Homo sapiens: one gene and its partner. The protein of the gene in region 2 interacts with the protein of the main gene of each other region in a biochemical or structural test. Each region holds a gene or a part of one and is shown on either strand. Other genes may lie near its edges.

The links.
Region 1: of the proteins of CAPN3 (region 2) and FLNC, one has a biochemical effect on the other in vitro, tested with the Homo sapiens proteins (one study listed by BioGRID).

The regions. Positions count from the first base shown.
Region 1 is NC_000007.14:128,838,242-128,847,432, reverse strand, and holds part of FLNC (filamin-C), read right to left. Parts: intron 9,167-9,191; coding exon 9,004-9,166; intron 8,831-9,003; coding exon 8,630-8,830; intron 7,411-8,629; coding exon 7,273-7,410; intron 6,886-7,272; coding exon 6,759-6,885; intron 6,600-6,758; coding exon 6,463-6,599; intron 6,264-6,462; coding exon 6,070-6,263; intron 5,980-6,069; coding exon 5,866-5,979; intron 5,203-5,865; coding exon 5,059-5,202; intron 4,859-5,058; coding exon 4,735-4,858; intron 4,640-4,734; coding exon 4,479-4,639; intron 4,205-4,478; coding exon 4,114-4,204; intron 4,026-4,113; coding exon 3,856-4,025; intron 3,638-3,855; coding exon 3,520-3,637; intron 3,430-3,519; coding exon 3,167-3,429; intron 2,776-3,166; coding exon 2,178-2,775; intron 1,444-2,177; coding exon 1,270-1,443; intron 1,133-1,269; coding exon 970-1,132; intron 689-969; coding exon 528-688; intron 1-527.
Region 2 is NC_000015.10:42,404,081-42,411,519, reverse strand, and holds part of CAPN3 (calpain-3), read right to left. Parts: intron 6,757-7,439; exon of another isoform or gene 6,565-6,756; intron 5,595-6,564; coding exon 5,577-5,594; intron 3,310-5,576; coding exon 3,196-3,309; intron 2,218-3,195; coding exon 2,140-2,217; intron 1,734-2,139; coding exon 1,676-1,733; intron 1,590-1,675; coding exon 1,525-1,589; intron 1,093-1,524; coding exon 1,024-1,092; intron 933-1,023; coding exon 854-932; intron 637-853; coding exon 520-636; intron 234-519; coding exon 175-233; intron 1-174. UniProt on the Homo sapiens protein: Calcium-regulated non-lysosomal thiol-protease. Proteolytically cleaves CTBP1 at 'His-409'. Mediates, with UTP25, the proteasome-independent degradation of p53/TP53.

The DNA of each region.
Region 1 (9,191 bases), on a different chromosome or scaffold from region 2:
AAAATGTTTTCAAAAATGAAATGTATTTCTGACACTGTGGCTGAAATAATAAAAAGATGGGAAATTAGATAAGGGAAAAAATTTCCAATTTCAGCAGTCCCAAGTCATACAATATTTGAAGACATGACCTGCCCGGGCAGCTGGGTCTGCAGAGGGCAGGGGAGTTCTGCAGACGATGCGTGCAAGAAGGCCCAAGGCTGGCCTGAGCCGCCAAGAGGAGTGGACTGTGTCTGAGTTTCTGGACACACAGTGAGTGGTGGACCTGCAAAGCCAAGGTCTTGAGCTCCAGACAAGGGGCTAGGAGGCCAGAGTGTGTTCCTGTGATTGACTAGGGGGGCTGTCACATCAACCCTCATTGCCTGCCTCCTCCACGTCCTCCCTCTGGCCGGGCTCCGGCCCCAACCCACTCTAGGCTGTCCTCTCTATGAACATTCTTACCCAACTTCCTTCCAGTTTCCCCCTTGTGGGGCGAGCATCCTGCACCCTCCCTTGTCTTCCCTGAGACCCCGACCACTCTCTCTGCACACCTGGGATGGGCCGCCCCCCGAAGGTGATGTTGACGTCATAGTCTCCAGGAGTGAAGGGGATGTACTCCACGGTGCAGCTACCATCCTTGTTGTCCTTGCAGGACATCTTGGCTTCCGAGGGACCCTCGATGGCTAGGCCAAGGCCCCCGGTGCCCGCTCCCCTGAGAGATAACATCCCCCCATCAGCTTCATAAGACCAGTGAGTGAGGATGAGGGAGTAGCTGAATGGGGGGACAGGGAGGAAAGAGGGCAGGCCGCTGGGGACCCAGCTGAGGAGAAACGAGCTACAGGGGCCAATCTGGGGTCCTGGAGGGGGTCTGCTCCTGCCTCACCCCTGAGAGAGGATGGGGTGGGGCTGAGGCCCAGGCAGAGGGATGAGCGAGGAGGGCCAGGGGCTGGGAAAGGGTGGTCACAGATTTAGGCTAGCAAAGGGGGAGGATACCTGGTCTCCACAGTGAATCGGTTGGCCTTGTTGACCAAGCCACCCTCCAGGCCTGGCCCGAAGGCTCGGACGCGGGTGGGATCACAGCCCTCGGTCACGCCCACTCGGAAGGGGCTCTTGGGCACAGCGACCTCATCATACAGGACCTCCACCAGATGCACGCCTGGAAGCCAGCCACAGGGGCATCAATCAGGGAGTGTGCGCCCCCACCACCCCTCCTGCCCCGAGGGCAATATCATCAGATCCCGGCCCTGCCCACTTGCCCAGCCCTGCCCACTAGCCTGGCCCACCGGCCCTCACCCTCCTCGTAGGCGGTGTACTGCACTCGGTAGGTGCCGTCCCCATTGTCTGTCACATAGGTGTCTGTCTTGGCCCCCGAGGGGTTGAGCACACGAGCCGTCACGTGGTTGCCGCCTGTGGCTGTTAGGGATCTTGCATCCACAGTGAACTCAGTGGTCACCTCCCGCAGGACACCTGGAGCCCAGGGGTGGCGTGTTCAGCAGGGGTGGGGGCAGCCTTCACACAGATGCTCCCTCTCCTCTCCCCCTCCTTTCCCTCTCCTCTCCCTCTCCTCTTCCCCTCCTCTTCCCCTCCTCTCACCCTCCTCTCCCCCTCCTCTCCCACTCCCCAACTCCCAGGCTGCTCCTCTAATCGGAGCCTGGGCCCCACACCCTCCCCTGCACCTCTGTGAGCTCCAGCCTCTGCCTTCACTCCCTTCTCCATGTAGTGACATTCTCTGTTCACTTGAGTCACCCACCAGGCTGTGGGCCTGGGTCTTGCATCCCTCTGCCGTGGCCCATGCCTAGCCAGGGTCTGGCCCCTGGCAGATGGCCCATTCCCACTTACTGTCTTCTGACTCTTGTCATCCTCTACCCCAAAGCTTTCCCCGTGCCCCCGTCCAGAGCAGAGTTTTAGCTTTTTGGATCAGGGTACCCCTTAAGCACATGAAAGAAGAGATCTCTCCAGAAAAACGCCCAGAGGCAGGTGCAGTTTTGCCACAAGAGCAGAGGCCAATCTCCACCCCCGGTCTTCCCCTCCACTCCTTCTCTGGGGTTTCTGGGCCAGTAAGGACTCTGGGGCTGCTCCGAGAGCCCTCCCTTCACCCCAGGTTGCTCTTCCAGCTCTCAGCTCTTCTTCCCTCCCTCCCACGGACTACCCAGCTCCTGCACCTGCCACTTGACCTTTCTTGGCTCCTCCTGTCCACTCACCGTGTGGCTCAACACCAGGCCCTGAGACCTTGACGCCACTGGTATCGACCGCAGGCTGCACATGGACACGGGTGGGGAATTTGGGCACGGGATGCCCGCCATACTTGATGGTAATGGTGTAGGTGCCAGGGAAGGCAGGGCTGTAGGTGATGTGGTAGGTGCCATCCGCGTTGTTGTGGATCAGCACCTCGGCCTTGACCCCGGCATCCGACAGGATCTCAATGGTCAGCTCCGCCTCGCCTGCCTCTGAGCAGTCCACAGTGAAGGTGGCTGCCTCACCGACCTTGCCGCGCTCCAGGCCCGGTCCACTGGCCCGCACCTTGCTCGGGTCAAACACAGGCCGAATGGTGGCTTTGAAGGGCGAGCCAGGGATGTGGGCCTCAGCAAACAGGATGTTGATGGTGTACTCGCCAGGCTCCGTGGGCAGGTAGCTGACAGCACATGAGCCATCACCATTGTCCTGGCACTCGATCTTGGCCTCGCAGGGGCCCTCTACGGTCAGCCCCAGGCCACCTGTGCCAGCCCCCTTGGTGTCGATGGAGAATGGCGCGGGGGTGCCTACCAGTCCACCCTTGAGACCCGGGCCATAAGCACAGACCTAGGGGAAGAGGCAGGTTGTGGGTTCCCTGCACCTGGCCTCCTCATCCCAGCCTTCATGGCCCCCACCCAACTCATCACCTCCAACTGTGGCTGCTACTGTGGACTGAGTGCTTATAACAATCCCAGGTGATGACATTGAGGCAGCGAGATGAAGCAATTTGCCCCAGTTAGTGGACCTGGGATTCAAGCCCAGGTGTGACTCCAAGGCCAGGCTCTTAATAGCTAAGTTGTCTCCAAGGCAGGTGGTGGGGTGGGGCTGGCCTCAGCCCCACACCCTTGGCTGTGCCCACTCCAGGCACATAAGTCCCTCTGGCCTCTGCCCCCTATGACTCATCTATCTTCCCAACAAGTCCCCAACTCCCAGCCCCAACCAGCTCCTATCTCCTCACCTTGGAGGGATCAGGGGGCAGGACACCCTCCACAGCAAACGGGCTGCCAGGCACCGGGTGACCATCGTAGGTGATATCCACCTTGTAGGGCCCCTCCTCCGGGGGCATGTAGCGCACAGCCTGGGCTTCCGCTCCACCGCCTGGCTCCAGCTTGCAGGGGATGGGCCGGCGAGAGGGCGAAGTCATCCGCACATCCAGTTGGCCCTGACCGCCAGCCCCTCGTGTGTTCACAGAGAATGCTTGTTCCTGTCCCACAGCCACCTCTGCGTGGAGGGCAAGTGACACCATGAGGAGACTCCGGTCCACCCTACCCGAATACCCCTCACTCCCAGGGTGGCTCTTGCCCCACTTACTGCTATTAAGGCCCTGAACTTTGATTTTGCTGAGGTCCAGCGGGGGTGCCACATTCACCACAAAGGGGCTCTTGGGGACAGGGTCCCCGCCATAAGTCACTGTCACTGCCATGTTGCCCTGTTGGGTACAATGGTAGGTCAGAACTGGATATAAGGCAAGGTCCTACAACATCCTGGTGGTGAATATGGGCTCTGAAGCTCAGATCCACCATGAGAGTGAGGGCAGGAGGCAGGAAAGGCGTGGAGGATCCAGAACTGGTCCCATGGGACTGGAGGAGGGAGACCCAGGGCTCTGGCGGGCCGGCCGGGCGGTAGCATGGGAGGGGCAGAGCGCACCTGCTGGACAGCGGTGTACTTGACAGTGTAGGAGTAGTCATGGTTGTCTATGATCTCAAAGTCCCGCACAACCTCGCCCTTGGCTGTCCCTGCAAACTGCACATCCAGCTTGGCCTTGCCGGCTCCCTTGGTCAGCACCGTGAAGTGGGTGGGCTTCCCGACTTCCACACCTGAGGACCCACCCAGAGATGTGGTGAGGGCCTGGCAGCCACCTAACCCCAACCTCGAGCCAGTCCCAGCCCCTGCCCAGACACTCACCTGTGCGATTCAGCCCAGGGCCCTCGGCCTTGACTTTGCTGGCATCGTGGGATGGGTCCACCTTGATGTGGAAGGGGCTGGCGGGGATCTCCTGGATGTGGAGGAGGCTCAGTCAGGGCTCTCGAGGGGAACACACCCCTGCTCTCAGCTAGATGCTGGCTCAGGACACACCCAGGGGACCCAGCATGGACAGGGGCAGCCTCCAAAAGGGCCCCCTTTGCTTCCTCTGAGGCACCCTGCCTCACACAGGTAGGGCTCCACCATGTCTGCGGAATCATCCCTCCCTGTTCCCAGTGACAGCATCTCCAGCTGCCTTCTGGAGCTGGCAGGTGCATGTCGCTGTGAGTACCCAGGAGCTTAGGTACCTGGTTGGCAAACAGCACCATGATGGTGTAGCGGCCCGCCCCTGGTGGCGTGTACTTGACGGTGAAGGTGTCGTTGTCATTCTTGATGATGTCGAAGTCAATGTCAGCCTCTGCAGGGCCCACCACGCCTGGGGCGCACTTGATGCCGATGCTCACGTCGCCTGCAGAGAAGCGGGCACTGCTGTGAGTTGGGCTCAGCCCCCGACTCGACTCACCCCCGCCCCCTCCCAGACCCACCCCTTCCGGCTGGGCGCACCTTGCCCCGCCTCGCTGCAGTCCACCGTGAAGTAGGTGGGCTCATTGGCCTTGAGGCCTGTCTTCTCCACTCCGGGGCCGTACACCTTTACCCGCTCGGGGTGGCTGCCCTCGCCCACGTTCACCTGCGGGAGGGGTCGCAGCTCAGCGTGGTGCCCTCCCTCAAGGCTCATCCTCCTGCCCAGCGCACCCGGCCCAGCCTCAGTGGCACCAGCCCAAGCCTCAGTCCCAGCCTGAGCCCAGGGACAACAGGGACTCCAGCGAGGGTTCCGCCCTCCCTCAGGGACCCCTGGTGGTGGGCACGGGGCAGGCCGGGAGGACGCACCCGGAAGGGGCTCTTGGGCACGTTTACGCCTCCCCAGGAGATGATGATGGTGTGCTTAATGGGCTTGGTGGGCACGTAGGAGCAGCGGAAGGTGCCGTCGCCGTTGGGGATCACCTTGATGTCGATGGGACAGCCGTCGGCGTCCTGTGGGCATCACCCAAGCAAAGTTCATAGCTGTGGCCTCTGCAGAGCGCCCTCTGCTGGCCGCAGGTGAACCCAGCGCCTCCTTTCCCACCCCCAACACTGGCACTCCCGCCCCCACACCAGCCACTGAGGCCACCAGAGCCCAGGGCCACGTGCTCTGGCGGCCAGAGCCCACCCTGGGAGCCTGACTCAAGGCCATCTGTATGGCTTGCTCTCCCAGCCTAGGTTTCCTCAACTCTGAAATGTGTTGGACAGGAAGAGTGTGGGCTAAATTTATGTTCCTAAAACTGAATCATGAGCCTTTCAAAGAAGAATCACCCTCTTAGATCCTCAAGAATATGTTCATTAACCTCTAGGGGTCAATGGACACCAGTCTGAGAAACTGACTTGGGAAACCAGTGTCTTATTCAATGAAACAATCTTTCAATTACAAATTAGCACAAAAATGACTCTTTGGTAAAATACGTTTTTAGGTTATCATCGTTAAGAAAACACAAAATTTAAAATTTTCCATGGTACTGATGGGCCCATGAGTATCAGTCCTGCCTGATCTTCTGTGATGCTGTCATTTCCTGCTGGGAGGCCTCTGCCTCTGGCCTGGCCCTGCCTTCCAGGGTCCCTGCCATGGGTAGTAAGGGCAGCAGAGACTGGACAATGACCTACCTGGGCATAGAGCTTCAGGTCTCCCTTGCCAGCTGCACGAGCATCAATGGTGAACTCAGCGGGCTTGTCCACGATGCAGCCGGTAGGCTCCAGGCCAGGCCCAAAGGCCTTCACCTGTGCGGAGGGAAGAAGGCTGAGTTGGGGAGGGGAGGAGAACCAGCTTGCCCCACCCCCGGGGCAGGTGTGTGTGAGCTGGGACCACACCTTATCTGGGAAGCAGTCAGGTGGGGCGGGCAGGATGTGGGCAATGAAGGGTGAGTCTCGGATGTCCTCATCGTCACAGATGACGTGCACAGCGTACTCCCCAGGCTCCGTGGGCCAGTACCGCACATCGCAGGAGCCATCCCCCTTGTCGTCACATTCGATCTTGGCTTGTGAGGGCCCCTCGATGGAGAAGCCTGGGGCAAGGTGGGGGAGGGTCGGGGATCCAGCATCAGGCAAGACCCTTCCGTCCCCCAGCTCCCCTCTAGCTGCCCTCATGTCCTATCTCCCTGCTCACCCCAGCGCTCCCCAGCATGCGCACTGCACCCATTACCCACAGTGTCCCCTGCTGCCCTCCCCCGCAGCACTCCCTCCTCCTGCCCCCCAGCCACTTACCCAGTGTCCCCACCTCGGTGCCAATGGCTTCCACCACAAAATCGGCTGACTTGCCCACCTGGCCAGTCTCCAAACCAGGACCCCAGGCCCGGACCTTTTGCACTCCTGCCTCTGGGCTCACCTGTACCTCAAAGGGGCTGGGCAGAGAGGGAGCTGGTGTCCATGCCAGGAAGTGCCCCCCAAAGTCCCTCGCAGCCCAAACTCCATCTCCCCTCAAACTCCCTCGCAGCCCAGTGCCCCTCGTCCCTCCCTGTGATGGCCTAGACAGGACAGCATGGGGGGCGCAAGGTACTCACCTGCGAGGGATGGCGTAGCCGCCCCACGTGATGGTCACCACATACTTCCCAGGCACCACCGGGTAGTACTCGCACTCGAACACACCATCCCCAGCCTCCCGCACCTTCACTGGCTCCTCTGTGCCCTCTGAGGAGATGGGGGCAGGGTGGGGAAGAAGGCAGATCAATATCCTTGAAGTCCCAGCTCCTCAATCCCCTCAAGGAGCCATTGGGACCCCGACCCAGCCCGAGGGCAGTGCTGTAGTGAGCAGTGCTGCAACTCAGGGCAGGGAACACTTGTCATCCCTGTGCATAACACCCCGTATAGCACTTAGGGTGGAGAGAATCATTCCTGGCTTGTAGACCAAGAAACTGAGGCAGAGAGGAGACAATGAGCCTGAGATTCTGGGGTGCCTCTGGTCACTGTGGAGCTGTGGTGCTGGCTGTCACTGCCCTCTGGGAGTCAGAACCACTGGCCATACTTCCCTTATGATCCCCCAGCCCCACCCTCACGACCCTGGGCTCTGGCACTCACTTGGCCCCTTGACCGTGACCTTGAGCTCCCCGCTGCCGGCACCCTTGGTAAACACCTTGAAGTCAGCCACCTCTTTCACGCGAACACCCTTGGGCTGCAGGCCTCGCCCAGAGGCGCGGCAGGCGTTGGGGTTACAGGCTAGGGGAGGAAGAGAAAGGAGGTTGGGGGTGCTGAGGGGCCTTGGACCACTAGCCCCCACCTCCCTGTGCACAGTCCTTCTAACCCCTCCCAGGCACAGGCAGTGGCCCACGGCCCTGCTCTGGAGCCCTTTGTGTCCCCAGCACAACCGGGGCTGCCGGGCTGGAGCTGGCTACAGGCCCCAGATCAGGCAGGTTACAAGAAAGTTTCCGAGCCAGTGCCACTGGGGAAATGCATGGCAGAGCCTGGGCTGAGAGTGGGCTCAGAGAGACAGGGAAGGCCCCTTTACCCAGCCCAAGGCCATCCATCTAGAGCCCTCTGGGCCTCTCAGGGCACCAAAGCAACCTTAGGATCTAAGTCATGCCACAAAACATCCAGCAATGCCACAGAACAAGGGCTACTTCATAGAACTCGAAGCCTGCCATACAACACAGGCAACGTGTGGACATCAGCCTACCACAGACCGTGGCCAGTGGCAATGAGCCCAGGCCTTGCTATGGAACACAGGCAAAGGAATGGGAATCTCAGCCTGCCACAGAATCCAGAAAAATGGCATGGGACCCACAGGTGCTACGAAACAGGACACGACACATATTCCAGGACTACCATGACCATAGGCGATGGCACTGCCCAAGGGGTACCACGGAACACAGGCAATGGCTCAGAGCCCAGATTTCATCATAGAAATCACCAGGCAAGTGGCAAAGACACTAGACCTGCCACAGAACACAGACAACGGCATGGAACCTGGGGCCTGCCACAGAATGCCAAGGAAGGGGGGGCGATTCCACACGGCCCGGGCCATGCCACACAGCACAGGTGAGGCCAGTCAGCTGCGGCCATGCCTGGCCCCGCCTCCACTGGAGAGCATTAATGTGGCATCACTCTCGGCCTGGTGGACGATGGGCACTGAGTGCAGGGAGAGAACAAGTGGGGCAGTCACCACCTGAGGGCTTGGCATGCAGGCAGTACTCCCTAGATATGCCCCCACCCATACAGCCCCGTCACTTCCGCTCAGCCCTCCCAGGGTGGCACATGTTCTGGGACCCTTCACTGTGGCCTCCCAGCTGTGCTCTTAGGAACTCCAGCCACCTTGGGGGTGGGATGGAGGACTCAGGGAGGGGGTCTCTGCAGACCCCCGCCCCAGCTCTTCCTCCTGCCCCTTGCAAGCCTCTGGCTTTGGTAAGGGCTACCGTGGGGAGCAGTGAAGGGCCCTTACCTTCCGACACATGGACAGGGAAGGGACTGCGGGTGATGGGGGCACCCGCAAAGGCCACATGCACGGTATGTGGCCCCTCCATGGCAGGTCTGTATGTGCAGCGGAACGTGCTGTCACCCTTGTCCTCCAGGGCCACCTCCACTGTGTCCCGCCGGCCCTGTGGGTCCACGATCACCACAGCAACATCGCCAGTGCCGGCCCCTGCCGAAAACAGAGGCTGTCAGCACCACTCTGGACACACACAGCTGCCCCGGTGCCCTCACCCTGAGGCTGCCCACCCTCTGGCTGGCATCCCTGTCCCAGCCTCCCCCCACCCCCACACAGCCCCACATGGTCAGGGGCTTTCCACCTGCACCCCCTGGGGCCCGTCCTACCCGCAGTGTAGATGTCAAAGTAGGTGGGTTTGTTGGCCACATTGCCCACAGGTTCCAGGCCAGGGCCACGGGCTGACACCTTGTTGGCATCTCCCAGGGCCATGCCCACGTTCACCTCAAAGGGACTGCGTTCAATGTTCTGGCCAGCAAAGAGCACGGTCACCTAGGGGTCAGAGGTCAAAGGTTAG
Region 2 (7,439 bases):
CCTCAAGTGCATGTGTCCTGGGAGCCTGCTGAGCCTCCCTCCATGTTCTGTTCCTATCCCTTCCCTCCACCACTGTGTGGAAATGAGGAGCACACCCTGGGTCCAGTCCGCCCCGTTGACCCCTCCACCTTGAGTTTTAATGTGTAGGGGGAATGTGCTGTGCCTATGCTTTACCTCCAGAACGTTGAGCTTGATGATACCATCTCCATCCTTGTCAAATGCATGAAAAGCTCCTGTGAAAGAATGCACAGGCCAGAGGCCAGTTACAGGCGCACTCCGCCTCTACTACTGTAACTTCCCCTCAGAGGACCATGTGCCCAGTGCTGTCCCTCATCAGCACAAAGATGTGCAGGCAGAGAATCACCAGTAACCCTCCCTTTGCCATCCCATTCTGGGCCTAAAGAGGTCATTGGCCCTTGTTCAGCCTGGATGGAGCAGACTGGAGATTATCAGGTGAGATGCCTGTTGCCACAACTGCCCCTGCAAGAGAGCAGAGGGCAGCCCCCCTCTCCCACTTACTGAACATGCCCTCCAGCCTAACGAAGCAGCAGATGAAACTGTCAAAGTCGATGTTCATGTGTTTGTCTGCGTACCGCATGGTAATGATGTCATAGAGCTGGTTGTTGAGGTGGAATCCTGTGGAGGGGACCATGTTAGAGGTGGACGTGGAGCTGGAGGCCTTGGGCCTGCCTTCTATTTTCCCTGCCTCTCGGCCACTCTGTGACCTGGGAAGGGAAAGTGAGAAGCCCTTTCCCTCTCCTTTCTCTAGTGGGGCCCTAGTAGCCTAGTCCCCTCCCATTCCTGCTCCCACCGTCTCGGGTCCACATCCCTGCCACCCCTTCCTTCTCAGCACCTGCGTCGTTGACTGCATTTCGCATCTCGTAGCTGTTGATGGTGCCGGACTGGTCTGTGTCATAGTGTTTGAAAATTTTCTGGCAATAGAAAATTTGAGGATGGAGGTCACACACTGAATCTCCAAATCAACCCCATTCTTGACTCCCACGCTTCATTTTCTCTTCCCACCTGCCAGGCCTTAATCTTGTTCCAGAGGTGGTGGAACTCCTGCAGGTTGAGCTTTCCAGAGCCATCTGTCTGGAGGAGGGAGGTCAGGGCTACACAGCACACAGCAAAATCCCCCTGGATTTGGAGGGAGGGTCTAGGAGACTCCGGGCTGTCCTACCCACTGCCCTGTTGTACTATTTAACCCTCCCCTCCACTCCACCACCAGTCAGAGATTGCGCCTACTCTGTAACCCAGGAGCCGCTCTCCTAAGGACCACTTTTGCTTGGGCAGGATCCCAGGCCTGAGAGAAGCACAGGGGTTAGGGCAGTTACAACCCAACATCCTCCCCTTCCGCCTCTAACAACCCCTTTCAGACGAGTATCCAAGATGTTCTGAATCAGGGTCTCCTTAAGTTTCCCTGGGCACAAATTAGGGCCCTTTGCCTGACTGGGCACCCTGTATGTTGCCTTGGCCCCCGTGGGCTGATGACAGAGGGTCGGGAAGGGGCGGCAGGAAGGATACATCCATGAGCGCAATCATGCTACGGCAGGACTCCAGTGTGAACCCGTGTGTCTTCAGGTCCTTGTCTGGGGGGATGGAGAAGAGTGAGGAGCTGCTTTGAGACAACGGGACTCCCCACCCACCCCACCCCCATTTGGTTTGAGCAACTCACGTTTGTTCACGACTGTGTTAAGGACCTTCTTGAGCTCATCTGCACAGATCTCCATGTCCTGAGGAGGAAGGGAGAGGAGGGTCATGGTTCAGGAGTACAGCAGCTCCTGGCGCGGACACTTTGCAAAACAAATTCCACCTGGCTGTGTTTGTAAAATCCCTGTCGGTGCTATTATGTCATGGGAAGCTGGGGCTTTTCTGAGGAAGACAGGGGGCCAGATACTGCACCTCAGCTATCAGGACCACCGTGGGCAGCTCAGAGCAAAAAGGCCTCTGAGCCCCCCAGCAGACGTGGCAGTCCAAAACTCAAGGGCTTGTGGATTTGTGTGCTACGCACACATCCCCTGGCTCCACCAAAGTCCAAAGTGACCTCTACCAAACAATAATGAAATAATTGGTAATCTGAGCAGTTAATCCAGGAGAGAAGGAAGCACCTGTGGGCGTCCTGGGCTTGGAGGTACTCACATCTCCTGCTATCTGCTTGAAAATGTTCCGGAATTGTTGCTGTTCCTCACTTTCCTGATCAGAGCTGCCAGGCTGTGGCTGTGGAGGCACAAAGGAAAACTGGTTCACAGGGGTCAGAGGTGCACAGGCCTGTGAGGCAAGCTCCTCTGGGCCAAGGGAGCCAAGTGCCTAAAACGGCCGGAGGTGGCAGCAGGAGCTGGGGACGGGCAAATGCAGACCTGGTGAGCTGGAGTGAGATGCATCGAGGCCTCAGGGACTCTTCACACCTCTCCAGCCCTGACGCCCCCAGCCAAAGGAGATATGGCGGCCATACAGCCTCCTCCCCGCCACCCCAGTCCCCACCTGCAAGAGCCCCCTCCACCATCCCAGGCCTGACCATTCCAACTAAAGGTGCCCGCAGGTCAAAGAAGGTCTGACCGTTCTGATTCCTCCAGCCACCCTGTCATCAAGGCCAAGTCCTCAGAGAACCTCCCCTAGGCCCCACTGCATGAGGCCCCAGATAGAAGAGGGGCTCCCAGACAGAAGAGGGGCCCTGGATAGAAGAGGGGCCCCCGGATAGAAGAGGGGCCCTGGATTGGTCTGGAGACTTTTGCCTCTAAGGCTCACCTCCACTAAGCTCCCACTCCAATCTAACACCCTCCCGTGAGCTCTAGAGGACCCCATTTCTGAAGTCAGCCCCACTTTTCTGCTCCTATCCTTTATCCCCCTATTGTGAAATGCTCAAGGCCACCAGGAGACAAGAGTTGCGCCTCCGCTCTCAAGCTGGTTCTGTCTCAGCCTTTGCCTCCCCTTCTCTGTATCCTGGCTGGATCAGCTCCATGGGAGGCTCAGCCTGCCAGTCCACTCCTAGAATGGAACCCCCATCCTGGGATATTCACCCAAGCAGCAGCCCAAATTTCAGGGGAACTTGCTGAAAGAAAAGGTCAGTGGGACAAATTCAAACCTCCAGATGTTCAAGACAAACTCCTGGGAAGCCTCCAGCCCCTGTGTATCCCAAGCGCATAGGAAGCCCCTGTAGCGTGCTGGCCACCCCACCCATGCCACATGCCCAGACACCTGTGGGGACTGCTTTTGCTTATCAGGGCTTGTTTTGCCTTTGCCCTCCTCTGACTCCTGGTCCACACCCAGCTCCTTGTTGCTGTTTGCTCTGTCCGAAACGAAGATGATGGGCTGGAGAGAGGAGGGAGGAGGCAGGAAGGAAGGGAGGATTACAGTCTGAACAGGCACACTGAGGCAGCACCTCTCTTGGAGCAGCTTTATCCAGTGAGAAGAGGAAAGGAATAGGCGGGAGCTCTTCAACCTCGGTTCAAGCTCTATCTCTGCCACTGACAAGCCGTGTGACTTCAGTTCTTTATCTTTTCATACCCACTCCATCCCTCCTCATGGTAGAGTATTGAGAGCTCAGCACGTGAAATGCTAAGAATGCTAAAAGCAGCATGATCTAGTGCAGTGATTGTCAAGTATTTTGTAGACTTTTTTTTTTCCAGATGGAAACACTGTTCAAATTAAATTTCCTGCAGAAACATGGTGTATATAAAAACACAAGCTTCTCTGATTAATGAGAACAGAGCTCTTTGCCCTCAGCACCCCACATCACCATGGCAGCTACTGAGGCACCTCAAAGGAACCTCTACAACCCTGCAAAGTATAGATTGAAAAAGGACACGGATTAGTGGCATGGTCAGTGGGTGAGCCATCAGAACACTGGGCTGGAATCCCAGCCCTGCCCCTCATATAAGAAATATCCTCTCTGGCCGGGCACGGTGGCTCACGCCTGTAATCCCAGCACTTTAGGAGGCCGAAGCAGGCAGATCACAAGGTCAGGAGATCAAGACCATCCTGGCTAACTGGGTGAAACCCCATCTCTACTAAAGATACAAAAAAATTAGCTGGGTGTGGTGGTGGGTGCCTGTAGTCCCAGCTACTTGGGAGGCTGAGGCAGGAAAATGGTGTGAACATGGGAGGTGGAGCTTGCAGTGAGCCAAGATCAAGCCACTGCACTCCAGGCTGGGTGACAGAGTGAGACTGTCTCAAAAAAAACCAAAAATATCCTCTCTGGCCTCAGTTTACTCATCCTTTAATGGTAAAATCTGCTTTCCCTCCTCATAGGGCTCTTGTGGGGATCAAATGAGATACTGAATGCAAAATCATACTGCAAAAACATTTAAGATGCTACACAAACAAGGGATATTTTCAAGACATGCTCGTGCAAGTGACAAGGATATGAAAAGGACGGAGAGCGGCTGCTGCATGGTGCCAACACTGTGGATGCGGTGCACCTGTAGGGAAAGCCGGGGGAAGGCAAGGCTGTGGGGATTGAGGCTGCAATGCAGAGAACAACTGGGCAGGCAGAGCCTCTCGGAGCAGAAAAGCAGCCCGCCTGGACTCATGCACCACTGCCCTTCCATGCTGCTCATCTAGGACAGCTCAAGCAGATAGACCCGTGGAAACGGCTCCCCAGCTTTGGCTCCCAGCAGGCCCCAGAGGCCTTGGCTTGCTCTGCCTTCTAAGCAGTGTCTTGCTCAAGCAGCTGAAGCTTGTGGGGATCCCAGAGCAAATGGAGGTCACAGTCTGAGGGGGGATGTGTAGGATGGATATGGTGTGGCCATGGAGCATCCCTGCCAGGCACACACTGGCAGGCCCGAGTGTGGGTCTGGACAACACAGGCCTTGAAGTGTAGGGGGCTGGCATCAGAGAAAGAGGGCAAGAAACACAGGTTTTGGAGTAAACAGACATGGTTTCCAGTTCCATTTTCCCCACTCATTAGTTCTGTTCCTTGGGCAAGTTCACTTCTTTGAGTCTATCTCACCTGTGAAAGGGGAAAAATAACAGCACCTACTTTGTAGATACTGTTATAATTGGGGGGGAAAAAAAAGAGAGGGACTGACCCCAAGCACAGTGCCTGGAATGTGGTAGTGCCTGAGGAGTGTCAGCTCTGGTCTGGGCCAGCACCAGTACCTGGAGGACCCCTGTGATGGATCCATCACCACCAGGCACCACCAGAAATGCTAGCACCAAATCTGATGGTGTATGATGGCCTCTTGTGGTTCAGGACACGGACTCTGGACCCAGACTGCCTGGCTCTAAGTACTGGCTCTGCCCCTCTCTGGCTGTGTGGCCTTGGGCAAGTTAGTCAAGTCTGTACCTTTTCTCCCTCTGAAAATGGGGATAGTTATAGTACTAATCTCATAGGGCTGTTGTGAGGAAGGAATTAATCATGGAAAGCACCTAAAAGAGTGCTTGGCACGTAGCCTTCCCCCAGCAAATCGTAGTTGTCATTACTGCACGCTCGGCCCCAGCAGAAGCTCAGGAAGGAGGGGGAGGAAGAGGCAAGTCTGGTGCATGGATGCATATGAGCTCACACATGCACACTTCACATGCATGCACATACATATGCATGAGTACACACACTTCATGCTCTCTACCCACACACCTACCTTGGTTTTTTTCTTTTTCTGCATAAGAAAAGGAAACAGTAAATGCAGAATAAGTGAAAAGTAAGTTCTCAGAACCGCCAGTGGCTTTTGGCTTCCCTGTATCCTGGTCTTTAGCTTGGGGTGGGGCTCCAGGGTCCAGAAATCTGAATCACATGGAGCCAAAAAGGGGCATGGAGGGTGAAGGGAGAAGAGAATTCTTCTTTCTCCTCCATGCCCAGACACCAGTGACTGCTCTGACTTTGTTTTTATAATCTACTCTTACTGCATATGGCAAGGAAAAAGATCTTCTGGCTAAGGTTTTCTTTCTTCCTTTTTTAAAAAATGAAATTGGTGGCCGGGCGTGCTGGCTCATGCCTGTAATCCCAGCACTTTGGGAGGCTGAGGTGGGCGGATTATCTGAGGTCAGTAGTTCAGGACTATCCTGGCCAACATGGTGAAACCCCATCTCGACTAAAAAATACAAAAATTATCCAGGCGTGATGGTGGGCACCTGTAATCTCAGCTACTCAGGAGGCTGAGGCAGGAGAATTGCTTGAACCCGGGAGGCGGAGGTTGCAGTGAGCTGAGATCATGCCATTGCACTCCAGCCTGGGTGACAAGAGTGAAACTCCGTCTCAAAAATAAACAAATAAATAAATAATAAAAAAATGAAATTGGTTACTAAAACACCAAAAACATGGCTCTCTCAAACTGACCTAACAATGGATTTTGACTTACAGAATATTTTTTAAAAATTTTTGAGCAAGCATTTAACATAGGGAGATTTTCTTTGGTAAAAGCCCCAGCTGTGGCAGGCTGCCCTGGGCCTGTAATCCCTGCGGCAACTATCAGCTGAGCCAAGGGCCCTGCTCCCTGTGTCTTCCAGATTGCCCCACGCCCCAACATTCCTGTTGACCCTCGACACTGGAGCGAAATGTCAATTGAGAACTGCAGACAACTGTGTCAGTGCAGGGACATCAAAACCCCTGCACCTGCCTGCTCTACTCACGTGACGTGCCAGCTCCCATAAGCTTTTGGGTTTGCAGGTCCTGATCAATACTGCACACCGATGACCAGCATCCAGATGACCAGAACAGATCCCCACACACCTACCACTAAAACCAATCGCCTGTGGTCATTCAGAAGGCACTTGGAGACCTGGCACTGGCTCAGGGTCAGGATTATGACCATGACTGTCACTGCCCAGAAGACAGTTCAGAGGGGCATTTGTCCTCCCATTGGCCTACGTCATCCCCACAGAGCACAAAGGACTGTCAGCTGACTACAGCCCAAAGCCCCAAGGCAGTCACAAGACTCCTCAACACACAGAGCCCAACACACAGCACTCTGTGCTTCGGACTTTGGGCTTCTCACTGCCTGGGGCTGGCCTCAGCGTGGAGGTGCGGAAAAACCTAAGTCTGGAGTCAGAGAGTCTGAATGTGAGTTCCAACCCTGCCACTTACTGAGCTCTGTGAACTCAGAGAAGTCATTCAACCCCATTGAGCCTCTGCTTCCTTTCTTGAACACCAGGGATTATAACCCCATCTACCTCTCAGCAACCTTGCAAGTATCGCGATGACACATGTGAAAAGTACCTTGTAAGGTGTAAAGTGTGAAAAAGCACCTCTGTTTGAGTGCCCATGCTGTGCCAGACACTTCACATACATCACCTCATTGATGAAGCCTCACAAAAGCCTTGCAAGGCACATTATCATCCCCGTTTTACTGAGTAGGAAACTGAGTGAGAGGGATTACAGAAATTGTCCAGGTCACCCCGCTGGTAAGTGGAGGATCCAAGTGTCAACACCAGGTCCGGCACCAGCTTACTTTCTTTTCTCTATGTGTGAAATCCAATGTTATCCAGTCTCAGAATCCAGTGTTCGC